2 linked regions of the Homo sapiens genome follow. The protein of the gene in region 2 purifies or fractionates together with the protein of the main gene of each other region. This does not show direct contact. Each region holds a gene or a part of one and is shown on either strand. Other genes may lie near its edges.

The links.
Region 1: the proteins of PLB1 (region 2) and WDR47 purify together in Homo sapiens (affinity purification with mass spectrometry; 2 studies listed by BioGRID and IntAct, with this or other methods). This does not show direct contact.

Annotation. Positions count from the first base shown.
Region 1 is NC_000001.11:108,987,025-108,999,568, forward strand, and holds part of WDR47 (WD repeat-containing protein 47), read right to left. Parts: intron 8,814-12,544; coding exon 8,556-8,813; intron 4,306-8,555; coding exon 4,230-4,305; intron 317-4,229; exon of another isoform or gene 1-316.
Region 2 is NC_000002.12:28,622,101-28,634,644, forward strand, and holds part of PLB1 (phospholipase B1, membrane-associated isoform 1 precursor), read left to right. Parts: intron 1-2,956; coding exon 2,957-3,008; intron 3,009-4,327; coding exon 4,328-4,408; intron 4,409-6,462; coding exon 6,463-6,528; intron 6,529-6,993; coding exon 6,994-7,085; intron 7,086-8,485; coding exon 8,486-8,564; intron 8,565-9,935; coding exon 9,936-10,040; intron 10,041-10,843; coding exon 10,844-10,939; intron 10,940-12,544. UniProt on the Homo sapiens protein: Calcium-independent membrane-associated phospholipase that catalyzes complete diacylation of phospholipids by hydrolyzing both sn-1 and sn-2 fatty acyl chains attached to the glycerol backbone (phospholipase B activity).

The sequences.
Region 1 (12,544 bases), on a different chromosome or scaffold from region 2:
AGCAAATCTTTGAATCCTTTTAATAATGCACCATCAGAGGAAACATTGTTTGCAAAGTCACCCATGTTTCTCTAAGCTTCATTACAGCCCCATAGATCCCTTAGCCCTCCTGCAGCCAGCTTCTCCTGGATAGTTTCTAATGGTGTTTCTTCTATCTTCCATTGTTTATAATCTGGAAATTCCATTTTACTATGTTCATGTTAACGTCCATGTCCATGGGCCATTTCTGTATTCTTTAGATGATTCTTTTAAAGTGCAGCATTATTGCTTTCCTTTTTTAAAAAGTTTTAATTTTTTTAATTAAAAAAAAATAGAGATGGAGTTTCGCCATGTTGCCCAGGCTGGTCTTGAACTTCTGGGCTCAAGCAATCTGCCCACCACGGCCTCTCAAAGTGCTGGGATTACAGGTGTGAGCCACCGCACCAGCCAATTGTTTGTTTTGTTTTGTTTTGTTTGTTTTTGAGATGGAGTCTTGCTCTGTTGCCCAGGCTGGAGTGCAGTGGCGTGATCTTGGCTCACTGCAACCTCTGCCTCCCAGGTTCAAGTGATTCTCCTGCCTCAGCCTCCTGAGCAACTGTGATTACAGGTACCCACCACCATGCTTGACTAATTTTTGAATTTTTAGTAGAGACAGGGTTTCACTGTGTTGGCCAGGCTGGTCTCAAACTCCTGACCTGAAGTGATCTGCTTGCCTCAGTCTCCCAAAGTGCTGGGATTACAGGCATGAGCCACCGCACCTGGTTCCAGCCAATTGTTTTTAAATACATATGATTACATGAAGTTTTTCTGACAGCAGTCTCCATATATTAAGTAGCATATTCAAATTCCCTAATTTTTCTATTTTTCATTACTCATTGCTAAACTAAGCTCAGTTCATAAACACTCAAGTTTTTCTTCAATTATTAAGACAAAATGTAAGAATAAATACGGGCCAGGCACGGTGGCTCATGCCTATAATCCCAGCACTTTGTGAGTCCGAGTTGGGCATATTGCTTGAGCCCAGGAGTTTGAAACCAGGCTGTGCAACATGGCTAAACCCCATCTCTATAAAAATGAAAAAAAAAAAAAATTTTAGACGGCTGTGGTGGTATGCACCTGTAGTCTCAGCTACTTGGGAGGCTGAGGTGGGAGGATCGATTGAGTCTGGGAGGTTGAGGCTATAGTGAGCCTGGGCAACACCTGTCAGGGAGGGGGAGATAGGAAGGGGGGAGGGGCGGGGCACCAAGAAGGAAGGAAAGAATAAGTATGCATTCCTATATTAAGTTCTCTTTAACTATTAAGAAAAAAAAAAAAGCCCACTAGAAGTTCTAACAAATAGAGTTTCATTTGTGTTTCTAAATGAAGGAAGTATAAAGGATTATTAATCTGCTTAAGAAAAAATGTTTACCATTATCTCTATCAATGAATATTTCAGTATTTCAAGCTGAAGTTATAAAATATCCCTTTAACAGCCTGGGCAACATGATGAAAACCCATCTCTACCAAAAAAAAGAAAAATAATACAAAAATTAGCCGGGTGTGGTGGCGCATGCCCGTAGTCACAGCTACTCAGGGCGCTGGGGTGGGGGGATCACTTGAGCCTGGGAGGTCAAAGCTGCAGTGAGCTGAGATCGCACCACTGCACTCCAGCCTGGGCAACAGAGCAAGATTCTGTCTCAAATTAAATAAATAAATAAACAAACATCCCTTTAAAACTGTAAAAATAATTTTAATGGAAACATTTGAATGTTTCATTTCTACTTTTTTTTTTTGAGATGGAGTATCGCTCTACTGCTCAGGCTGGAGTGCGGTGGCGCAATCTTGATTCACCGCAACCTCTGCCTCCCAAGTTCAAGCGATTCTCCTGCCTCAGCCTCCCAAGTAGCTGGGATTATAGGCATGCACCACCACACCCGGCTAATTTTTGTATTTTTAGTAGAGATGGGGTTTCACCATGTTGGCCAGACTGGTCTCGAACCCCTGAGCTCAAGTGATCTGCCACCTCAGCCACCCAAAGTGCTGGGATTACAGGTGTGAGCCACCACGCCTAGCCTCATTTTTACTTTAAACTGTCAACCTGTCCATCCAGATCTCTCTTCTGAAGAGAGATGCTGAAGCAGTTCTGTATAAAAGCTTTGGTGAACCTACTACTGATGTCATTTGAAACCACCGTGTTACCCTGACCAGGACTGACTGGACATGGTGCAGGAACCTCTACACTAGGTATGGTCAGACTCAACCAAACCCCGGCTTTGAGAAGTATGAATGTCAAGTACACACACAAAGGAAAATCACTTCAGCTCTGGATGTATTCTGAGAGGTCTAGGACCCATAATGACTACAGCAATGAAAAGACTATGCCTCTCTCTACCTAAGCCTTTATTCATGCAATACATCCTCCTTGCAGGAGTAGGGGGGCAAACCTGATGTGTTACGCTATGTATGTCCTATGTAAGTGAATTGAATTCTGATATTATTTGTATGAATTTGACTAGAAATGTTGCATTTTCCAATAATCCATACACAGGGAATGTGACTGTTTGCAAAATTATATAATAGCATGGGGTAGATAAGAGAAAAAGGGAGGAAAAACGACTAATTAACTAAATGGCCTATAGCACATCAAAAATTACTAAAGATTGCTTTATAGCAGAAGCCACACAAACTGATTTTATTTGCTGTCCTCCAGAGTGTTTTAAATTTTTTTTGAGACAGAGTTTTGCTCTTGTTGCCTAGGCTGGAGTGAAATGGCATAATCTTGGCTCATTGCAACCTCTGCCTCCCAGGTTCAAGCGATTCTCCTGCCTCAGCCTCCCAAGTAGCTGGGATTACAGGCACCCGCCATCACACTCAGCTAATTTTTTGTATTTTTAGAAGAGATTGGGTTTCGCCATGTTGGCCAGGCTGGTCTCAAACTCCTGACCTCAGGTGATCCACCTGCCTTGACCTCCCAAGTGTTGGGATTACAGGAGTGAGCCACTGCATCCAGCCTTAAAATTTTTTTAAATTTGTTGTCATTTAAAAAACTAGGTGATTTCACATAAAAATCTAGATTTCTAGCTTTTCTTGAAAATCAGGTCAGGTGCAGTGCCTCCCACCTGTAATCCTGGCATTTTGGGAGGTCGAGGTGGGAGGATTGCTTGAGCCCAGGAATTTGAGACCAGCCTGGGTGACGTAGTCACACCATGTCTCTATTAATATATATACATACATATATTTTTTGGAGACAGAGTCTTGCTCTGTCCCCCAGGCTGGAGTACAATGGCGCGATCTTGGCTCACTGCAACCTCTGCCTCCTGGGTTAAAGCAATTCTCGTGCCTCAGCCTCCCAAGTGGCTAGCATTACAGGCGTGAACCACTATGCCTGGCTAATTTTTGTATTTTTAGTAGAGACGGGGTTTTGCCATGTTGGCCAGGTTGGTCTTGAGCTCCCGACCTCAGATGATCCAACTGCCTCAGCCTCCCAAAGTGCTGGGATTACAGGTGTGAGCCACCATGCCTGGCCTAATATTTTTTTTTAAATCAAAGGAATTGGAAACACTGGACTTGCATATTTCTTTTGCAAGGGACAAATATTCCTTTGTGCTTATCATAAAAATGGTCAATTTTATTAATTTATGTTATCTATTTCATCCCTAAAAGCATCTCAAATTAACACCTTTGTTTATGGGGTTAAAATCTGAACTAGGAAAAGTAAGATAGAGTGAAGCTGTATACTAGCTAGGAAAGGATGTTTGCTTCCAAAGCAAAAAAAAAGGTGTACCGATGAGAAGCCCAAAGAGATACCAATAATGAAATTAACCATAGGGTTCAGAGAATAACACAGAGCCTCAATTCATGTCCCAAGGCCACTACTAGGCCATTAATATGAACACTCCCACGTGTCCAACTGTGCTTTCTAAGGCTCCCTCTTCAGTTACACCACTGAGAGCTCAACTGCCTTGAGCCTCGAGATAAATACCAACATTAGCAGTAAAAGTTTGTGGGGTTTTTTTTTGTTTTTTTTTTTTTAAGACACGAGGTCTCACTCTGTTGCCCAGGTTGGAGTGGTGCAACGGCTATCCACAGGTGCGATTCTAGTACTCTACAATCTCAAACTTCTGGGCTCAAGACATTCTTCTGCCTCGGCCTCCTGGGTACTGTACACCACCACGTCTGACTAAAATGGTTCTTTCTTTGAATTGAAAATTTCTTAGCAAAATTTACAGGTGCATATGAAAACAATAAAACTTCCTTCCCCAAAGTATTACCTCTTCCCCTTTCGACCTTGAAAGACTCCCTGGAGAATCTCCAAGAGGTGGCTTAATGACCGAATGTTCTGAAGAGCTGTGGGAGTAGAAATTCAAGTAAAGTTTACTCCATGTATCAAAATAGAAACTAAATTAATTTACCCTTTCAAACACTAATTTTTCTTTTTAGCAAACAATCCTAGCTGACTCCAAAGTTACTCTCTGGAGACATTTATTAAAATAAGCTCTGGATTCAGTGGCACCAATGACAGTTGTAAGGAGGAGATGAAAAGCCATTCTGGAAAGAAAATTAAGTCAAAGTCCACATATTTTATAGTGAGATGTCAAGTACCCTTCCCTTGCTTAGTTCCAGAATCCTGTTTGCTATGCTTAAATCCAACCCCAGACAGGACACTGGAGAATGCTCTTCAGGAAAATTATCTGGCCCAAGAGAAAAAAATATCAGAAACTTACAGTTTAGGGTACCTTAGTAAAACTATGTTTCCTCTTAATCAATTTTTGTGAGGCCAACAAGCAGACAGATCCACCCACATATGTAGCCCTTCCTTCCAATCAGCTTTTAAAATTTTTATTTAATATTATAAAATATAATAGAGACGGGGTCTCCCTATGTTGCCCAGGCTGCTCTCGAACTCCTGGGCTCAAGCAATCCTCCCACCTCAACCTCCCAGATTGCTGGGATTACAGGTGTGAGTCACCACACCCAGCCAGCTTTTGTTTTAATGTCTCACTGTTTACGGCCAGCCAAAGCTTTCTAGATACCTGAAAAAAGCCGAGATAAAAGGTAGAGACTAAAATCAACAGAAAAATGAACTTGGGAGAAGAGAGGCAATTTAGGGAACAAAAGCTACAAAAATGTAATTTAAATCCTTAGATATAAGAGGAAATAACAGATTAATAAGGAAACAAGAGCAAGATCTATTTTTTAAAAAGGAAAAGAAATTAGATAATAAGAAAGACCTCTTAGAAAATTAAAATATGATGGTAGAAAAAAGTAAATCCGAAGCAGCCTGAGGTAATCTGTGAAAATGGTTCGCTATTCACTTGACCCGGAGAACCCCACGGAATCATGCAAATCAAGAGGTTCCAATCTTCGTGTTCACTTTAAGAACACTCGTGAAACTGCTCAGGCCATCAAGGGTATGCATATACGAAAAGCCACGAAGTATCTGAAAGATGTCACTTTACAGAAACAGTGTGTACCATTCCGACGTTACAATGGTGGAGTTGGCAGGTGTGCGCAGGCCAAGCAGTGGGGCTGGACACAAGGTCGGTGGCCCAAAAAGAGTGCTGAATTTTTGCTGCACATGCTTAAAAACACAGAGAGTAATGCTGAACTTAAGGGTTTAGATGTAGATTCTCTGGTCATTGAGCATATCCAAGTGAACAAAGCACCTAAGATGCGCCGCCGGACCTACAGAGCTCATGGTCGGATTAACCCATACATGAGCTCTCCCTGCCACATTGAGATGATCCTTACGGAAAAGGAACAGATTGTTCCTAAACCAGAAGAGGAGGTTGCCCAGAAGAAAAGGATATCCCAGAAGAAACTGAAGAAACAAAAACTTATGGCACGGGAGTAAATTCAGCATTAAAATAAATGTAATTAAAAGGAAAAAAAAAAGTAAATCCATAGAAAATAGAGGTGAGGAAATTGCTAAATAATATTTTTTTAATTTCCTAGAACTTAAGTTTCCAACTTAAAAGGGCCCATGAAATACCCAGAAGAATAAGGAAAAATAGAATCACTCTAAGGTCTATCTTCTATATCATCATGAAGTTTCAGACTATCAGGGAAGAGAAGAACCTGAAAAATTCCAGAGTAGAAGGAGCAATAGGCCTCACCCAAAGAATGAGGAATCAACCAGCCTCGCCAACATGGTAAACATGGTGAAACTCCATCTCTACTAAAAATACAAAAATTAGTTGGGTGTGGTGGTATGTACCTGTAGTCCCAGCTAGTAGGGTAGCTTAGGCACAAGAATCACTTGAACCCAGGAGGCCGGGGGTTGCAGTGAGCCAAGATTGCGCCACTGCACTCCAGCCTGGGAGCCAAAGTGAGACACTGTCTCAAAAAAAAAAAAAGACAATGAGGAATCAAGATGGCATCAGACTTTTTAATCAGAACACTAAAACTGGAAGATCATGTAGCAATGCTTTTGAAATACTGAGGAATGATTTTCATCCTAGAATTCTATACCCAGCTATACTAACAAAAAAGGTGAAAAATAAAGCAAACACATTTTTAGACATGCAAGGTCTCAGAAACTTCACCTCTAAGGCACCCCTTTTCAGGAAACTGTGAGATGCTAAAAACAGGGAATCTAATAAAGAGATGAGGCAAAGGAAATCCCAGCAGAACAGTGAGGAAAGTCCCAGGATTCTATCTAGACCTACATAAAGTGATCAAAAAGCAGTAAATATAAAGTGAAGCAGGAGTGATCCTGGAGGGACATCTCCCAAGGGGAAAAAATGGAATAGAGAAATTTCTGACACTTTTTACAATAATGAGAGAAGTTTTATGATTTTATAATTCTGTCAAAGCACTTACAGATAGTTTAGTGATAAATATTAAGAAAACTCATCATGTACAGACACATGAACACCAACTTGAGGCAATTACTGTCTCCAGGAAAAACAAGAAGCTATATGAAAAAGAAATATAATCATATGGCACTACATGACCCAGTTGTAAATAACATTTACAAGGTCATAGTAATGTGATACTGATTTAAACAAAATCACACTGATACTGATTTAAACAAAAATTGATATATACTGAAAATAAGGGATAGACAAAGTGAGGGTGCTATGTATGAGGAGTATGGTAGAGAATCAACAGATAGCAAAAACAGTAATAGAGGCCGGGTGCGGTGGCTCATGCCTGTAACTCCAGCACTTTGGGAGGCCGAGGTGAGCGAATCATGAGGTCAGGAGTTCGAGACCAGCCTGGCCAACATGGTGAAACCCTGTCTCTACCAAAAATACAAAACATTAGCTGGACATGGTGGCACATGCCAGTAATCCCAGCTACTCAGGAGGCTGAGGCAGGAGAATTGTTTGAACCTGGGAGGCAGAGGTTGCAGTGAGCTGAGATTACACCACTGCATTCCAGCCCGGGCAACAAGAGCAAAACTCCATCTCAAAAAAACAAAACAAAACAGTAATAGAAGTATGTTTTTCAGAAATGTGGAAATATATAGCAAAAGGCTGGGTGTGGTGGTTCACTCCTGTAATCCCAGGACTTTGGGAGGCTGAGGTAGGAGGATCACTTAAGCCCAGGAATTTGAGACCAGCCTAGGCAACATAGTGAGATCCCATCTTAAAAAAAAATTGTATGTATATATATCAAGAGAAACAGCCAAATGGGTTGAAAATGGCAGCCAATAAGAAATAAAACCATGGACAAAGATGGGTTTTATTTTAAGCCTTGAAGTACTATTTGTCTTTTGAAACCATGTATGTATATTACATGGACAAAAACAAAAATTAAATTTTAAAATCTGAATTCTTGTTTTGAAAGTACTCAAAACAACTATTATGAAAGCTGTAATAAAAAAGCAAATAGTAAAAAAATAAAAATTCAGAAAAGAATCAAAAATTGAATTTATGCTCTGAAATAAAACTAGGTTTTTGACACTAATTATTTATAAAGTGAATTCCTATAAGCATCCAAGTGCCAAAAGCAAGTTATACATTTTTGTACTTAATCTCAGCCAAAAAGCTGGGAATCTCATCTTATACATTTTTTAATGAACCACCCTGAAAAGTGTTTTATGCTAAGAATATAGAAAATGCTCCTTAACTATTCCCATTGCATAAATTAACACTTGTATACTAATGATAGCAAGATAAAAATTTTCCCTGAATAGTGAAAATGTAAATATGCAGTCTTCCACTGCTGTAATTGCCAAAGCAGCCAACACTGCAGCTGTAATCATTCCACCAGATTGTAAAACATCTTTCTATGCCCTGAAAGTCTGAATTTTAAGATTATTTGTTCAAAGATGCCAACTGAAGAAAAAAGAAAATCAAGATTTAGAGATCCTAAAACTGTAGGTTCTTTGAGTAGGATGGCTTATAAAAAATATAATTGCCTTGGTGGTAGTCAGGAAGCAAAAAGAAAAATAGAAGGAAAATGGAAACTATAAAGAGACTTAGAAGTTGGTAGAAGAGAATATAGACAAATGAAGGCAGATTAGGAAAAAAAATTGGTAGGCAGTAAGCTCTAAAAACTTTTATTTATAAGGCTCCAAAGACAAGTTCAACCTTCTAACCATTAGTAGTAAGTTAATATTTCCAAGTTTTACAAAGTCAAGCACTTACATTTGGCTTCCACAAGGTGATTCCTCCAGAAAAGGTATGTGATTTGTTGATCCAGGATTACGAGGAGTGCTTGTATGAATATTTGAAGCATCATGTGTTAATCTCTGACTAGAGTCTTGGGGTGGTGTAGTAAAACTAGTCACAGAAGAACCATTAGATCCATTGCCTTTGCTCCCATTACATTGCTGGTTGAGTGCTGATACCTCATTACCAAGGCCATCCATTCCAATATTTAATTCACCAAGCTTTTGAATGGACCTATAAAATTAAACAATGTAATCATTTTAAAATAAAAACTTAATTGCATTCCTAATATATACAAGGTTAAAAGTGTGAAAAGGTAAAAATATGCACATATAATATATAATCTATGGCAAATTTAGTGTTAAAAATTACCACCATCAACTTAAGACATAACCAAGATACTGAAAGAAGATCCACATTTTCCCATAGTATAACACTACAGAAGATAGGCATAATGGGCATTATAGACTTTTCTTTTTTTGAGTCAGGGTCTCGCTCTGTTGCCCAGGCTGAAGTGCAGTGGCATGATCGTGGCTCACTGCAGCCCTGGGCTCAAGCAATCCTTCCACCTCCCACACATACCTGGGACAACAGGTGCATACCATCATGACCAGCTAACTTTTTAAATTTTTTGTAGAGACAGAGTCTCCCTATATGGCCTAGATTGGTCCTTAACTCCTGGGTTCAAGCTATCCTCCTGCCTTCCGCCCAAAGTGCTGGGATTATAGGCATGAACCACTGTGCCCAGCCAGTATCACAGACTTTTTAAAAGCAGCTTTTACAATAAAAACAGAAAAAAAATTCTTTTTCTTCCCCAATATAACTTTGGTTTAATTTTCCATTTAAAACTTAACTTTCAGAAAGAGTCAATAACAATATCACCACTACCAAAATTGCTCATCAACAAAACAAGCCATTTTCATTCCATCTGTCTTGAGTAGTATCAAGTAGGAAATGGATGACTTGAGCAAGCCATGATGAGTAAAAAGTCAAATGGCATCCCTAATACTCCACATGTACTTATTCACTCATTAATTCATTCTACAAATACTATTGGCCAGTCTCTGATCTAGACAATAGGGAGATAAAACAGGGAGCAAAACAAGTTAGCCTCAGGGCCTTGCCCTCAACAAATAGTCTCTCCATTGCTGTAGCCTGACTCCATATTGAGATCAGGGCTACAAAGGGCACAAACAGGAAGCTACATTGCTCTTTTAAGATTTAGACTCATGGGCCAGGTGCGGTGACTCATACCTGTAATCCCAGCACTTTGGGAGGCTGAGGTGGGCGGATCACTTGAGGTCAGGTTCGAGACCAGCCTGGCCAACATGGTGAAACCCCATCTCTACTAAAAATACAAGAATTAGCCAAGCATGGTGGCAGATGCCTGTAATCCCAGCTACTTGGGAGGCTGAAGCAGGAGAATCACTTGAACCTGGGAAGCGGAGGCTGCAGTGAGCCAAGATCACACCACTGCACTCCAGCCTGGGCGACAGAGCAAGTCTCCATCTCCAAAAAAAAAAAAAGAAGTTAGACCCATGGCCAGGAGCGATGGCTCACGCCTATAATCCCAGAACTTTGGGAGGCCAAGGCAGAAGGATTGCTTGAGCTCGGGAGTTTGAGACTAGCCTGGGCAACAGAGGGAGCCCGTCTCTCCCAAAAAAAAAAAAAAGAAAAGAAAAAGAAAAACTTAGCCAGACATGGTGGTGCAGGCCTATGGTCCTAGCTACTTGGAAGGCTGAGGTGGAAGGATTGCCTGGGCCCAGGAGGTCAAGGCTGCAATGGGCCGTGATCCTGCCTGGGCAACAAAGTGAGATCCCATCTCAGAAAAAAAAAAAAAGAAAAAGAAAAAAAAGGAAAGAAAGAAGGAGGGCTGGGCGCGGTGGCTCATGCCTGTAATCCCAGCACTTTGGGAGACCGAGGCGGGCGGATCACGAGGTCAGGAGATCGAGACCATCCTGGCTAACACGGTGAAACCCCGTCTCTACTAAAAATACAAAAAAAAAATTAGCCAGGCGTGGTGGTGGGCGCCTGTAGTCCCAGCTTCTCGGGAGGCTGAGGCAGGAGAATGGCGTGAACCTGGGAGGCGGAGCTTGCAGTGAGCCGAGATAGTGCCACTGCACTCCAGCCTGGGCAACAGAGCAAGACTCCATCTCAAAAAAAAAAAAAAAAAGAAAGAAGGAAGGAAAGGAAAGGGGAAAGGGGAGGAAGGGAGGGAGGAAAGAAGATTTAGACCCAAAACTAACCCAGCATCAGTTTCTCCAGCTGAGATTCAATATAAGAAAGGACTAACACAGGGAGTACAATTATTGAGAGGTGTTGTGGCTTATGGTATTTTTTAATTTTCCTACATTAAACATTGTTTATTTATATTTTTAGGGTTTAAAAATACTTCCAAAAAAGCAGCTCAATATTATTAGAGGAACTGTTAGCCTTATACTAAATATTTATCAGTTAAAAATTATAATTAAGTAGCATTTCTCAAATTGTGTTCTGTGAAACATATTTCTTGTGAAATGTACATATATCTTTTTTATACTCCCCATAAAAAGGGATGTGAGGTCAAATAAATTTGGGAAAAATGCAAAGTATAAAAAGCATTTAAAATGCTAATACAGGCCAGGCACAGTGGCTCATGTCCGTAATCCTAGCACTTTGGGAGGCCAAGGCGGGCAGATCACCTGAGGTAGGGAGTTTGAGACCAGCCTGGCCAGCATGGTGAAACCTCGTCTTTACTAAAAATACAAAAATTAGCCAGGCATGGTGGTGGACACTTGTGGTCCCCGCTACCTGGGAGGCCGAGATGGTGAATCGCTTGAACCTGGGAGGAAGACGTTGCAGTGAGCCAAGGTCATGCCACTGCACTCCAGCCTAGGCAACAGAGCAAGACTCCGCCTCAAAAAACAAAAAAAAAATGCTAATATAGCATTTTAACTCTCTTAAAATGGGCTGGGATGGGGAAGAGGCTGAATACGCCTATTAATTGTCAAATCAATGGTGCCAATTATTAGTATTAATAAAAACAAAAGATCAAGAGGTATAAAGTAATGATACAGTACTATTAATAAAATTCCTATCATGCTATAATTTTTTTCAATAAGATCTAATTGTGTAACACACCTTACTTCTCTTCTGTCTATGCCCCTCAGAAGGAAGAAGTAAAATTTAAATCTAGAAATAATGACCTGCAAGAGTGATTTGGAAGAATAAAACATTGAGAGGAAAAAGCACATTTTATAGATTCTATCTCCATTCAATTTGTCCTTGATTTTACATATCTTAAAGCCCTAGTACAGGCTCAGATATACAAAACTAGAGTCTAGAAAAAATAATTAAACAAAAATATTGGGCCAGGCATGAGCCTGTAATCCCAGCACTTTGGGAGGCCAAGGCAGGTGGATCACCTGAGGTCAGGAGTTCGAGACCAGCCTGACCAACATGGTGAAAGCCTGTCTCTACTAAAAATACAAAAAATTAGCTGGGCATAAGTGGCAGTGCCTGTAATTCCAGCTACTTGGGAGGCTGAGGCAGGAGAATCACTTAAACCTGGGAGGCAGAGGTTTCAGTGAGCTGAGATCGCGCCACTGCACTCCAGCCTGGGCAACAAGAGCAAGACTCTGTCCCCAAAAAAAAAAAAAATTATATTAAAGGGTTAGAACAGAATAGATAAGATTAAGAGAATGACAGAAAATTTATGGGAAACTAATATATAAAAATTTAGGATGGGCCGGGCATGGAAGCTCCATGTCAAAAACAAAAAACAAAACAATAAATACACTCTAAACAAACCTAAATTACAAGACAGAATTTAAATTCTAGGCCCAGAATGGTGGTTCTCGCCTGTAATCCCAGCACTTTAGGAGGTCGAGGCAGGAGGATTGCCTGAGCTCAGGAGTTCAAGATCAGTCTAGGCAACATGGTGAAACTTCATCTCTACAAAAAATATAAAAATTAGCTGCTTGTGG
Region 2 (12,544 bases):
TAATCCATTGACTTAAGAAAGGGAGGTTGGATAATTGCTCTATAACTTTCCTTTATCTCTATTCTGTTGTTTATTAGCATAGATACAGATGAGTTCACCTAAAGAGAAACATACAAACCATAGCAGAACACCTAATATCATAGGGTGTGGGATCAGATCATTCGTGTCTACATTCCAGCTCCAAGGCTTGCTAGCTGTGTGACCTTGGGCAAGTTGCCTAGCATCTCTGAGTCTGTTTCTTCAGCAATAAATAGGGATAATAATAGTACTTCTCAGGGTTGTCATAAGGATTAAATGAGATAAATAATCCGTGAAAAGAATGTAGTACCACACATAATACCCACCAAAAAAGCAGTACAGTACAAATGTACCAAAAGTTTGCCATTTAATAATGGATCTTCAGTTTCAAAGTTTTTTTCATCTAACTTTCCTTCCATCAACCAATAAGAATTCATTGAACACCTGCAAAAGAGTGAACCCTAAGGTGGTTACTAAAAGATACAAAGGGCCAGGCATGGTGACTCACACCTGTAATCCCAGCACATTGAGGGCCGAGGTAGGTGGATCACCTGAGGTCAGGAGTTCAAGACCAGCTTGGCCAACATGGTGAAACCCCATCTCTACTAAAATCAAAAATTAGCTGGGTGTGATGGTACACGCCTGTAATCCCAGCTACTCGGGAGGCTGAGGCAGGAGAATCACTTGAACCCAGGAAGTGGAGGCTGCAGTGAGCCAAGATCGTGCCATTGCACTCCAGCCCGGATAACAAGAATGAATCTCCATCTCCAAAAATAATAATAATTAAAAATAAATAAAAGATACAAAGGAATCAAAAGATGAACTCCCTGGCCACGAAGAGCTTGCACTCTAGGTAAGGAGGCTAAACAAATGGGAAATAACTTTCTGAAAAAGACAATGCTGGGTATGGCAACAATGCAGTGCTTCGCATGGAGTACAATTAAGAGAACAGAAGAGCACACAGTATGAACTGCACTGTCTAAAGACAGATGCAGACCCAGAAGGGACCCCTGAAATCATCCAGTCCAACCTCTTCCTTTAAAAGATGGGAAAAGTCAATCCTAGCAAGATTCAGCAACTTGTACAAGCTCAACAGCAAGTTGGTAGCAGAGCTGAAAGTAGAACCACTGGTCCCTGGGGTAAAAAAGGAAATGCAAGATGTGTGGATCAGGGAGCCCAGAGAGGAGGCTCAAGGGAAAGTAGGACTTGGTCTGGGCCTGAAGGATGGGAAGAAGATGGCTAGGAAGAGGGGAAGAAGCGGCATTTGTAACTTCCCCTCCTACCCACGAGGGCTTATTGCCCATGGATTCTCTTAGTCACACCTTGAACCTGTTAAAAGGTTAAAGGCACTTCTGTGGTCACCTTTGACCAGAAAAGTCTTTCTTTATAGCTTTCTGGTATACTCATCAATAGCAATAATGTATGGGATACAATCCTAGATCTGTAAATTCTCCTTAATGAGAAACAAGGGTAGGGATGGTACCATGTGTGTTTGGCCACGTACCTAGCTTACCGTGGCCACCCAAAGATTTTCAGTGGCCAGCTCGCACTGGTTGCTGCTTTTATGGCTTCTTCCATGGACACTTTCATTGGCTATATCCCCTTTGCTGACCTAACTTCTCACAGACATTTCTTTAAACACAGCTTTATTGAGGTATAAATGACATGCAATAAACGTCACATGTTAAAAGGATATAATTTGGCTGGGTGCGGTGGCTCACGCCTCTAATCCCAGCACTTTGGGAGGCCAAGGTAGGCAGATTGCCCAGGAGTTGGAGACCAGTCTGAGCAACTTGGTGAAACCCTGTCTCTACCAAAAATACAAAAAATTAGCCGGGCATGGTGGCATGGACCTGTAGTCCCAGCTACTCGGAAGGCTGAGATGGGAGGATCACTTGAGCTCAGAGGGGTTGAGGCTGCAGTGAGCCGTGATCACACCACTACACTCCAGCCTGGGCAACAGAGCAAGACCCTGTCTCAAAAAGGATACAATTTAACATTGTACCTGTGAAATCATCACCACAATCAAGATGAAAAATGTGTTCATCACCCACAGGAGTTTTCTCAGGCCCCTTGGTAATCTCTCCCTCCTGCTCCTTCCTGTCCCTACCTCACACCCCAGGCAACCACTAACCTTCTTTCCATCACAATAGATTAGTTTGCATTTTTAAAAATTTTATATAAATGGGATCAAAGAGTATATACTTTTTATCTGACTTATTTAGCAAAATGATTTTGCGATGCATCCATGTTATTCGGTATACCAATAGTTCGTCCCTTTTTATGGCTGAGTAGTGTTCCGTTGGCATTCATATCGCTCATCCAGAACACCAAATGGTATTGTTTTATTTATGGCAGACATCAGGGGATGAAGGGAGAACTAATCCTGTCCATCCTGGTTTATTGGAGAGGGAGAAAAAAAAAAGTGAGGAGATGGGGAATGGTGCGGAAATCTAAGTAACCACAGAAAAGAAAAACAAAAGGATTAAAGGAGCAGAGAGCAGGGCTTAGAAGTAAAGGTTAAAGGAGTCATTAAGCCTGGAAAGGAGAAAACTGAGGGATAATTGAGAGCTGTGACTTTTCTCAAATATACAAAAGGTTATTTTTAAAACAGGCAACTGAAGAAGAAATGAACAGGCTTGGCTTACGAAGAAAGAGCTTGAGGAAGTATAAGGGAAAGTCCTGAGGGGAGGCTTGACGGGATCCCAACCCGAGTGGCCGATGAGACTATTGGGTGGCAGGGGCTAGATCAATGTGGCTCCAGGGTCCAGGGCAGCCATGTGATTGTTACTAAGCTGAGATTTCTTGAGAATGGAATGACCTTTGTACTGGTAACATCATTCTTCTTGAAACACCTCTCTTCCTAGGCCAAAATCCCATGTCGTGAGTCCTCGCTCCTGAGCCGGCACTAACGCCCCTCTCTCTACCCCCCACCTAGGGACATGCCAGCCCAGGCCTGGGACCTGGTAGAGCGAATGAAAAACAGCCCCGTGAGTACAGGCCCCCAGGCCACCCCTGAAAGGTGCCCATCTCCTGCTGGCTGGGGAGGGGACAGCCCCATAAGGGTCCCTCTCACCACAGCACTTCCTGCTTTGGGCTAGCCAAAAGATCCTCGGAGAAGCAGTCCTTACCAAGGAGGCGCCTGCCCTGGCCACACTCCTAGACGCAGGCTGTGGCACCCCTCACCCCAGGGCCGGCTGCGGGAGGGCAAGGTGGAACAGGGAGTTGGCTGAGGTGGTGGCCTTGGCCTCTGACAGCTTCCTGCTTTAACCAAGAGGTGGCTTCCCAGAGCCCTATTATGTAAATGCAAGGTTCTAAAAATAGGCTTCTCATTCCAATCCAGTTCTGCCTCCTTCCCCTCACCCTGCCCCTCTGAAACTTCTCACTAGCACTTTTTTTTTTAACCGTTCAGTGTTTATGCCTAGGAATTCAGCTCCCGGTGGGATTCCTATTATGGAGGTGGCCAAGTGGAAAGCCAACTGCTTAGAGGGCCTCCCAGCCCCAACCCCGCTTCTCAGTCCACGCTGGGCTCTTCCTCCAGTCTCCTTCCCCCGACCCTAAGAACTCATCCCAGGGGCAGCTTAGGGCCTTTGCTTCTAGCTGCATCCTTTGCCTACAGCTCCCTGGAAGGCCTTCATTTGGGGGGACGTGGTAATCCCCTCGGCATTTAATGGGCCAAGGATATGTGGGACACATCCACATTCTACTTCTCCAGGGACACAACTTTCTTAAGATTTCAAGGGGAAAATAGCCCTCCCTTGTGTAAGCAGAACCCCGTCCCCCGCCAGCGCCCACCGCCAAAAAAAAAAAACATCCTCTCTGTGGAGCACCTTATCCTAGCACCAATTGAGGGCTGGGAAGCCCCACTTTGTTGCTTTTCTTTTTTTTTTTTTTTTAGACGGAGTCTCGCTCTGTCACCCAGGCTGGAGTGCAGTGGTGCGATCTCAGCTCACTGCAGCATCTGCCTCCTGGGTTCAAGTGATTCTCCTGCCTCAGCCTCCCAAGTAGCTGGGATTACAGGCACCTGCCACCAGGCCAGGCTAATTTTTGTATTTTTAGTGGAGACGGGGTTTCATCATGTTGGCCAGGCTGGTCTCGAACTCCTGACCTCAGGTGATCCACCTGCCTCAGCCTCCCAAAGTGCTGGGATTACAGGTGTGAGCCACCGTGCCTGGCCCAATTTGCTGCTTTTCTCTGTTACAGTATAAATAAGACAAAAGGCACTTGGAGGGCGGGCGGGCTGGCCCAGTAGCAACATTTGTATGTGCCTCCCACCAAGGCCTAAACTCAGGATCTTCTGTCCCCTCAGGACATCAACCTGGAGAAAGACTGGAAGCTGGTCACACTCTTCATTGGGGTCAACGACTTGTGTCATTACTGTGAGAATCCGGTAGGCCCCCGACCAACCCCATGGGGACCTGAGAAGGAAGGTGCTGACCTCTGGCAACATCCTTGCCCATCCATCCCTGGCCCTGCCCCGAGCTCCTTGCTCATGGGAACCACATTTGCCTGCTGCCCCAGGCCCTCCCTGGTTTACACATGCCAGGCAAGGCCCAGCCTTTTCTACTGCCTGAGCGACCCCTGGAAGAGCAGGTGCATTGGTTCCCCAATTCCAGAAGTAAGGCCAAGGTGGACCCACTGTAGGCACTGCTGAGGTGAGGCCTCTCTTATCCACACAAATATGACCTCTGGTACCAGATAGGGGACTAGCCATCCTCACCCCATCCCTGCCCTGTTTCATTTTGAGGAAGGGCAAAACAATGTTCTAAATGGGGTTGGATGGGTCATCACGAGTTAACCAAACCTCAGTGGTGGCCCTGGGAGCCCAAACCTGTTCCTGATGTTTCCATGGGGAAATATGTCCAGACTCACAAACTTCTGGAAGTTGTAACTTCCAAAAGTTTTTATTTTGGAATACATCTTGTTCTAAGTTGGGGACATTCTGTATTTTATTTGGCCGGGAAAAGGCAGCTGCCCAGCCTCAGAGATTGTGGTCGAATGTTTGACAGTCACAGATGGTGGTGTGGGGGAAAAGGCATTTATCACTCCTTGTGGCTCACAGAGGCCAACTACCAGAGGCTTGATGAGAAGTATCCTCCCACACACAGGAGTTGGTTTTCCAAACCTCTTCCCCTCAGTTCTCTCCCTGACCACCCACACTCTAGAGGCAGAAGTGACCCTAACTCATGGGGATTTAAGTATTGCTGTGTTCTGGACTCCGGGGATACCTGGACCCCAGAGCTGCGTGGACACTGTGGACGCTGGCGTAGGGAAATGCCCTCTACTAGTCCCAGGATGTGTGTTCTTCATGGGAACAGTCAGGTTTATACTTCCGAGAGCGTAGTTTAGTTGAAAGGGCTGGGCTGCCCCGACTAGGATTAACTCAGACTGTTTTAAAAAGAAGGAAAGGGGGAAAGGCAGAAACTCTGGGAGACACGAGGTCCCCTCTCCTCTATTTTAACTCTTCGGCATGGATTGTCTATCTTGTTCCTTTCCCCTTCTTCCCAACTCCCAGTACCCCTTCTGGTGGCTGTGGCCAGAAACTCAGCGAACAGCACTGGTCCTATGCCCATCAGTGTGCTGGAATTGAGTGCACGGTATCTCACCTGGCCTCAGCTCTTCGTCTCCAGAAAAAATAATGGGCTGCCTGAGCTCTCCCCTCCTGCCTGAGTGGTGCTGCTTTGTGGGTGCCTCAACTCCCACTTCCTGTGGACATGCTTTCTTCCATGAGTATAAGAGCTTCAGGTTACCACCCGCACCCCCACTGGTATCAGCCTGTGACACCTTCTGGGCCTGTAGCCCAGAGCCACATCTAAAAATAGAGGCCCATCTCCCTCTGCTATAAAGCAAAGCCCTGAGATTCAGCCTGCAAGGACTTACTGAGCACCTACTATGTACCTTGTTTGCATCACCCAGGATGCTGTGGACACACCTCTAAATCAGCCTCCTACTGGGGAGATGGTTCAGAGGAAGAGAACCTTACACTGAGTCACAGGGGATAGAAGTTAGGGGAACACAGGAGAGCAAAACATTTCAGGCAGTGGGACCAGCATGGACCAAAGCCCAAAGGAAAAAGGAAGTGTGGCCACCCAGGGCATGGCAAGGGGCTGGAGAAGGCTGAGGTCAGATGACGGATGGGACTGCCGAGAGCCAAGGCCAAAAAGTGGCAGGACCCAGCACTGGCAGAGTCCACTGTTGGGTCTGAGATTATGTAGAGCAGGGTGGGGGTTGGGATTGTTCATGGTGTCTAGTAGGGGACAAGGGATGATTCCTTACAGAGACTCAGCAGCAACAAGAACTGGGCTTCTCAGTTTGACCAGGACCACCGAAGCCCCTCTGTACCCACTCAGTCATTTAGCCCAGGCCCCAGAGCCCTCCTATGCTCTTGCCATTCTCTCAGAGCGGGCACCAGGGGCTAAAGAGAGTACCCTTTTTTCCTTACAGGAGGCCCACTTGGCCACGGAATATGTTCAGCACATCCAACAGGCCCTGGACATCCTCTCTGAGGAGGTAGGAGAGGGGTTACGTGTTCCTGGGTCCCGCCAGCCACCTCCCTGGGATGCATGTAGGCAGGCTGTGTTCAGTGAGATGCTCACGGAGCAGAGACCCGCCATGAGTGAGCACCTGGATGGCAGGGAGGGAGGTGGCTGTCAAGCTCCTCTGCAGGGAAAATTCTCACTTGGCCAGAGACAGGGTTGTGTGGTAGCAATGAGCTTGCCTCTGAACCAATTGGCCCAGGTTTGCGCCCAGCACTGTGGCTTCGGGCAAGTGACTTCCCTGTGTCTCAGTTTCTCAACCTATAAAGCGGGGCCACTCAAGAAGATTCAGTGAGATACTACAAGTTGCATCCCCTCTCTGGGCCTCAGTTTCTTCATTGGTAAAATTGAGGGGAGTGGGAATTGGATTGTAGATGACCCCCAGGTTCCTCCCAGCAGTAGCCAGTGCCCTAACGAAACCACCCTCCACTCCCTGCAGCTCCCAAGGGCTTTCGTCAACGTGGTGGAGGTCATGGAGCTGGCTAGCCTGTACCAGGGCCAAGGCGGGAAATGTGCCATGCTGGCAGCTCAGTAAGTGGACAGGTCACCGTCCCAAGGCAAGGGCACCTGGGGTGAGGAGGGCTTGCAGGTGCCAAAGGAGGAGACCAGTTGAGGCAGAGCCAGGCAGGCCTGCCAGAGGGTAGACATGGCTCAGGGGCTTGGACAACATCAGGAAGTACCTCTACATTTGCAAATGCCTACTGTATGCAAGGTGCCTCATTTCTCTGGACCCCCTTTTGCTTTTCTGTGAAAGGAGACAGACCAAATGATCCTTAAGGCTCCCTGACATTGTCAGTGATTGCCAAGGCAAACCTTGGCACGCTGCTCCCTGTTGAGAAGCAGCATGGGGCCATGAGCTTTCAAGGCTGCTACATCCAGCCTTGACTGTTCTGCCATTTAGGAGCTATGGGACCTTGAACAAACCACATAACCTCTATGAGCCTCTGTGTTCCTCATCTGTAAAGTGGGGGTGATGACACCTTCCCTGCAAGGTAGATGTGAGGTCAAGAGGAAACAAGGTACCTGGCCTACCAAGACTACCAAGAGCAGGGTCTTAGGAAATAGCTCTTATTCCATCCTTGATGGGGCCTGTCCTTGATAGCTGGGCTTGGAGGCAAGGTGCTAATGGGCAAGACAAGAACTCCTATCGGGGGCTGGAAGTCATTAAAGCTCTTGAACCCTGGTAGGAAGTTGCCATGTTCTGAGGGCAGAGGGCCTCCCACAGTTTGAGTGATTATTGCTATGAGAGAGGAGGTTCTCCAGGGAGCTGAGGAGTCCTACACCTGGGCTCAAATGGATTTGCTGCAAAGGTGACCAGCTGGTTCCCATTTTTGCAGGGAACCCTGCTCTCTCGCAGGGAACGGCTCCTCCAGAGTCTGTCTGTATCGTGTTCCATGTTGTCAGAGTTGCTTCCAGCCGGTTGGCCCTCCCCAGCTTTCCCACAGACTTCCCACACTGGAGCCCTGAGGGAGGGTCCTAAGCAGTTGCAGGAAGAGCTGAGAGGCCCCCGGAACTTGAGGAGCGATTCCAAACCCAGGGACAGAGCCATTGTGGCTGGTTTCCTAAACTCCAGTCTCCTGTCTACCCAGTCCTGCTCTGGAGAAATCCCAGGGACCACAGGCTTGGGAAGGAGGAAGGGGAATAGGCGTTCTGTCCACAGGGAGGTCCAGGCAACAGCTTTCCCTCTTTCTCTATGAACAATCATCCTCTGGACCTCAGGGCTCCTGAGTTAGCATTCTGTAACCTGGGTCCAAGAATCAGCCAAAGGTGTATTGTGGGGATACTTGTGTGTCACCCCCCGCCCTAGGTAAGGCAGCACAGGCTGCAGGCCCCTGGGGTAGTGGCCTGCTCTGTGTGTCAGAGCCAGCCTCCCAGGAGGACAGAGCCACAGTGCCCCAGGCAGCCTCAATACAACACTCCCTGTCTCACAGGAACAACTGCACTTGCCTCAGACACTCGCAAAGCTCCCTGGAGAAGCAAGAACTGAAGAAAGTGAACTGGAACCTCCAGGTAAGCCCTGCAGCCCTTCTCTTACTGACCCAGCTGGGGGGCCCCCTGTACTCCAAGGACTGGGAAATCGAATGCCCAGCAGGATGTGGCCAAGAGCAAGCCACTCCCTAAAAGCAGATTGCAGCCCCTGAAATACTTACCCCTGCAAATTGAACACCAAGGCCAGGGAAGGGAGTGAGAGACCCCAAAGTGGAAGCTGAGAAAATCCCCTTCTCCCAGCGGGTAGGCAGCAAGAGATTCCCAGAGTAGACTCCTTGTGGTAGGGCCCATTCCCCACCCAGAGCCATGTGTAATAATTACTACTCACTTCCTCCCCTCCCTTCATTAAAAACAAAAGGCTTAGGCCCGACACAATGGCTCACGTCTGGTGTCCCAGCTACTCAGGAGGCTGAGATGGGAGGACAGCTTGAGCCCAGGAGTTGGAGGCTGCTGTTAGCTATGATGATGCCATTGTACTCTGCCTAGACAACAGCGTGAGACCCTATCTCAAAAAAAAAAAAAAGAAAAAAAGAAAAAGGCTTAGCCCTGCCCTACTTAACTCTACCTCAAATTCTCCTTGCCCTCTCTCTGCCCCCTTCCATCTCCCCACCTCCACTCCTGCTTATGTCTCTGCCTCTATTGTTCCCTCTCAGGCTCAGGTAGCATTTCCATTCTGCAAACTGACCCTCCTTCATTCACAAGGCAAGTCTGCTTCCCTCCTCTAAGGAGCTTCCCCTGCCTGAACTTCACCCGCGGACATCTCCCCATATCACATTCAGTCTGTACTTGATGGGCCCTAAAAGCCCCAAAGGGTTCTCATGTTTTCACATCTTGGCTCATTTTTCCAGATGGATGATAAACTCCTTGAAGATAAGTACATCTAGTCTGTTCCTTTTACATTCCATGCTTGGGTACTTAAATCCAGCCACCGTGGACTCTCCTCCCGCAAAGTTCATGGGCATTTTGGGAGCTGGTGTTGAGATGCTCCCCATCTGACCTGCAGCCCCATGTTCTAATTGACCTCTTCGTGCAGTGAGAGGAGGGGAGGACTTTGGCCTATGCAATCTGGTCAGTGGCTCAGACCCAGCCTTTCAGGCAGAGGCTTTGGAATGGGACTGGGTGGAGCTGTGTAGCTAGGGAGCTTCTCCCACCAGGAGCCGCTGGGTTCAACTCATCTCTGATCCTGAGAACCAGCATAGGGCTTTGAAATGTCCGTGCCCATGAATGGGTGGAGAATAAAAGTATGTTTGCATCCCACTAGAGTAGCCCCTTAAAGTCACTGTCCTTTAGGGTGAGTTGACTCCCGTCAACAACCAATCCAAGGCAGCAGGACTGGACCCTGTCTGTGCAGCCTTGCCAGGAGGGTTGAGCAGCTTCTCTCTCTGTCCCCAGCATGGCATCTCCAGTTTCTCCTACTGGCACCAATACACACAGCGTGAGGACTTTGCGGTTGTGGTGCAGCCTTTCTTCCAAAACACACTCACCCCACTGAACGAGGTGAGCTGCAGGTATTTTAGGGAGGCTCACGTATGGGGGCCTTATCACAGACGATGGATGTATTTCCTTCTCTAAGTGGGCTTTTTTTTTTTTTAACCATCTCTCTCCAAGAGGATTCCTGAGGGTGGCTTTTTCCACATTACCTCCTTTTTGTGGGGGCTGGGCTGTGATTGGAACTCAGATGTACTTTGAAAGGAAATCAATAGTGACTAAGCTCCCAGGCCTGGCCCTGATGTTTTCTGGATTGGGATAGAATGGAAAGCTTCCTAAAAATGTTACTCTTTTCAACTCTTAGGATAGGGGTGCTGAAAGAAAAGGGAGAGACTATGGGTGGGTCCAATTCTTGTCTGTTTAAAAAGAAAATTCCGGCCGGGTGCAGTGGCTCATGCCTGTAATCTCAGCCTTTGGGAAGCCAAGGCGGTTGAATCACGAGGTTAGGAGTTTGAGACCAGCCTGGCCAACATGGTGAAACCCCGTTTCTACTAAAAATACAAAAAGTTAGCTGGGCGTGATGGCAGGCACCTGTAATCCCAGGTACTCGGGAGGCAGAAGTTGCAGTGAGCTGAGATTATGCCACTGCACTCCAGCCTGGCTGACAGTGCGAAACTCCGTCTCAAAAAAAAAGAAAAAAGAAAAAAAGAAATTCTAAATTCTGGGAGTTTTTCCATCAGTATCTGAGCAAGTTGGCAGGAAAGTTGAAAGAATGAAAGGAGACATGCCCAGGGCACCTGCTGGGAGAGTGAGTGGGGCTCAGGTAGCAGAGCCCTTTCCCAGGATGATAACCTCCTTGCCGTTGGTTGCAGAGAGGGGACACTGACCTCACCTTCTTCTCCGAGGACTGTTTTCACTTCTCAGACCGCGGGCATGCCGAGATGGCCATCGCACTCTGGAACAACATGGTGAGCAGCCAAGGGCCTGGTGGGCCTTGTCAAGGGGGGATCTAAGGATATTGACACTCTGTCTCACAATGGCAAAACTACTGGAGACATGGCTCCTTTCTCCCCAAAGCCCAAAGTGGCAGCACACCTTATTGGTCCTGATAGATTAATTCCAAAGGGAAAATACCCTATATTTATCCAACACCCTTTGAAAGTTATACAAACACACACTCACACAACTTTATTCTTTGTTCCTTCAGCAATGCCCAGGTACTGCGAGGGGATCCCTTTGTAATCAGATAGGTTGGCTAGATGAAAATACCAACTTCTACCTCGTACTGTGTGACCTTGGGCAAACGATCTCTCTGGCCACCTGTATCAACATCTATAAAACAGTGAAAACAAGACAGGTCTCAGACAACGCATTGAGATCATGTGTACATGGCACCTAGCACAATAGTTAGCACTCAGCAAATGTCACCACCATCAGCCTTCCAAGCACTCCGGGCTCAACTCATACCCAACTCATTTCTCTAAACATCGAAAAGTGGAGATCCACACAGCCTGTTTTCCGAGGCTGATACCTATTCCAGTCCTTTCTGATGGGAAGAAGGGACCTTATGAAATGAACATACAGTCTGGGGGTCTTTCAGGGACACCTGCCTGGTGCTTCCACTCTGCCTTCTGTGGCTGGCCACCAGCAACTGAATGGTTTCCGCACAGCACTTGACCTGTCACCCCCAACAACTGGATCCTCTTGCACGGAGCAAATGAAATGCCTTCCCAACCCAATGGTTTCTTTTAATCCAGGCTCAGTGGGTAACACAATCCCCACCCCAACCTGTATGTTCCCTCCTTTGTCCTATGACAACTAAACAAGCTACATTCCAGCTCCTTTTATCACAGTTTCAGGCCCATAGTGTCTCTGCCAACCACCGCTGTGCAAACGTTCCCACCCCTGTCAGCTCATCCAGTATGTCCAGCATCCCACTCGGCTGACTCACAATATTGACTTTCTCCTTAGCTATACCATCTCCTCCTCTCTAGCAACCTCTTCTTTTAAGAACAGCATGTAAACTGGCTTTATCCTTGGCCTAGTTAATGGCAGACTCAGCTTATGTCGACTTCCATTGTCAGGGGGTTTTCCTCCTGTGGACATCACGTACCTGCCCACTCCAAGAACTTCTATTGTACTCTTTCAGCCCAAGACTCCGGATTGTAACCAAAATGTCTTTGAGTTTGCCCCACGATTTTTAAATCAGTTTATATGGTATAATTCCTGTTTCTTTTGTGGATTTTGTTTTGAAGGCGGTTGTCCTTCACTGGCTGAATCATGTGACTTTATTCCTTTGTAAAAATCTTCCCAAAGAAAGGGTACCTATTCCCTGTTCCTTTTCCCCTGAGACCTCAGGGGATTCCACAGATGCCCTTGGCCCTTCCTTCCCAGTTTTTTCATCAAGGTATGGCCTTCCTACCAGGTGGCACTCCAAGTCTGCTTAAATCTGGGACCCTCCAGGAATCTCCTGGGGCTGGATAGCCATAGTGACGGCTGGAACATGAAAAAGAGTCCATTGGTTTCTTTTCTTGTGAATTAACAATGTAGCTCTGGCCAGGCACGGTGGCTCA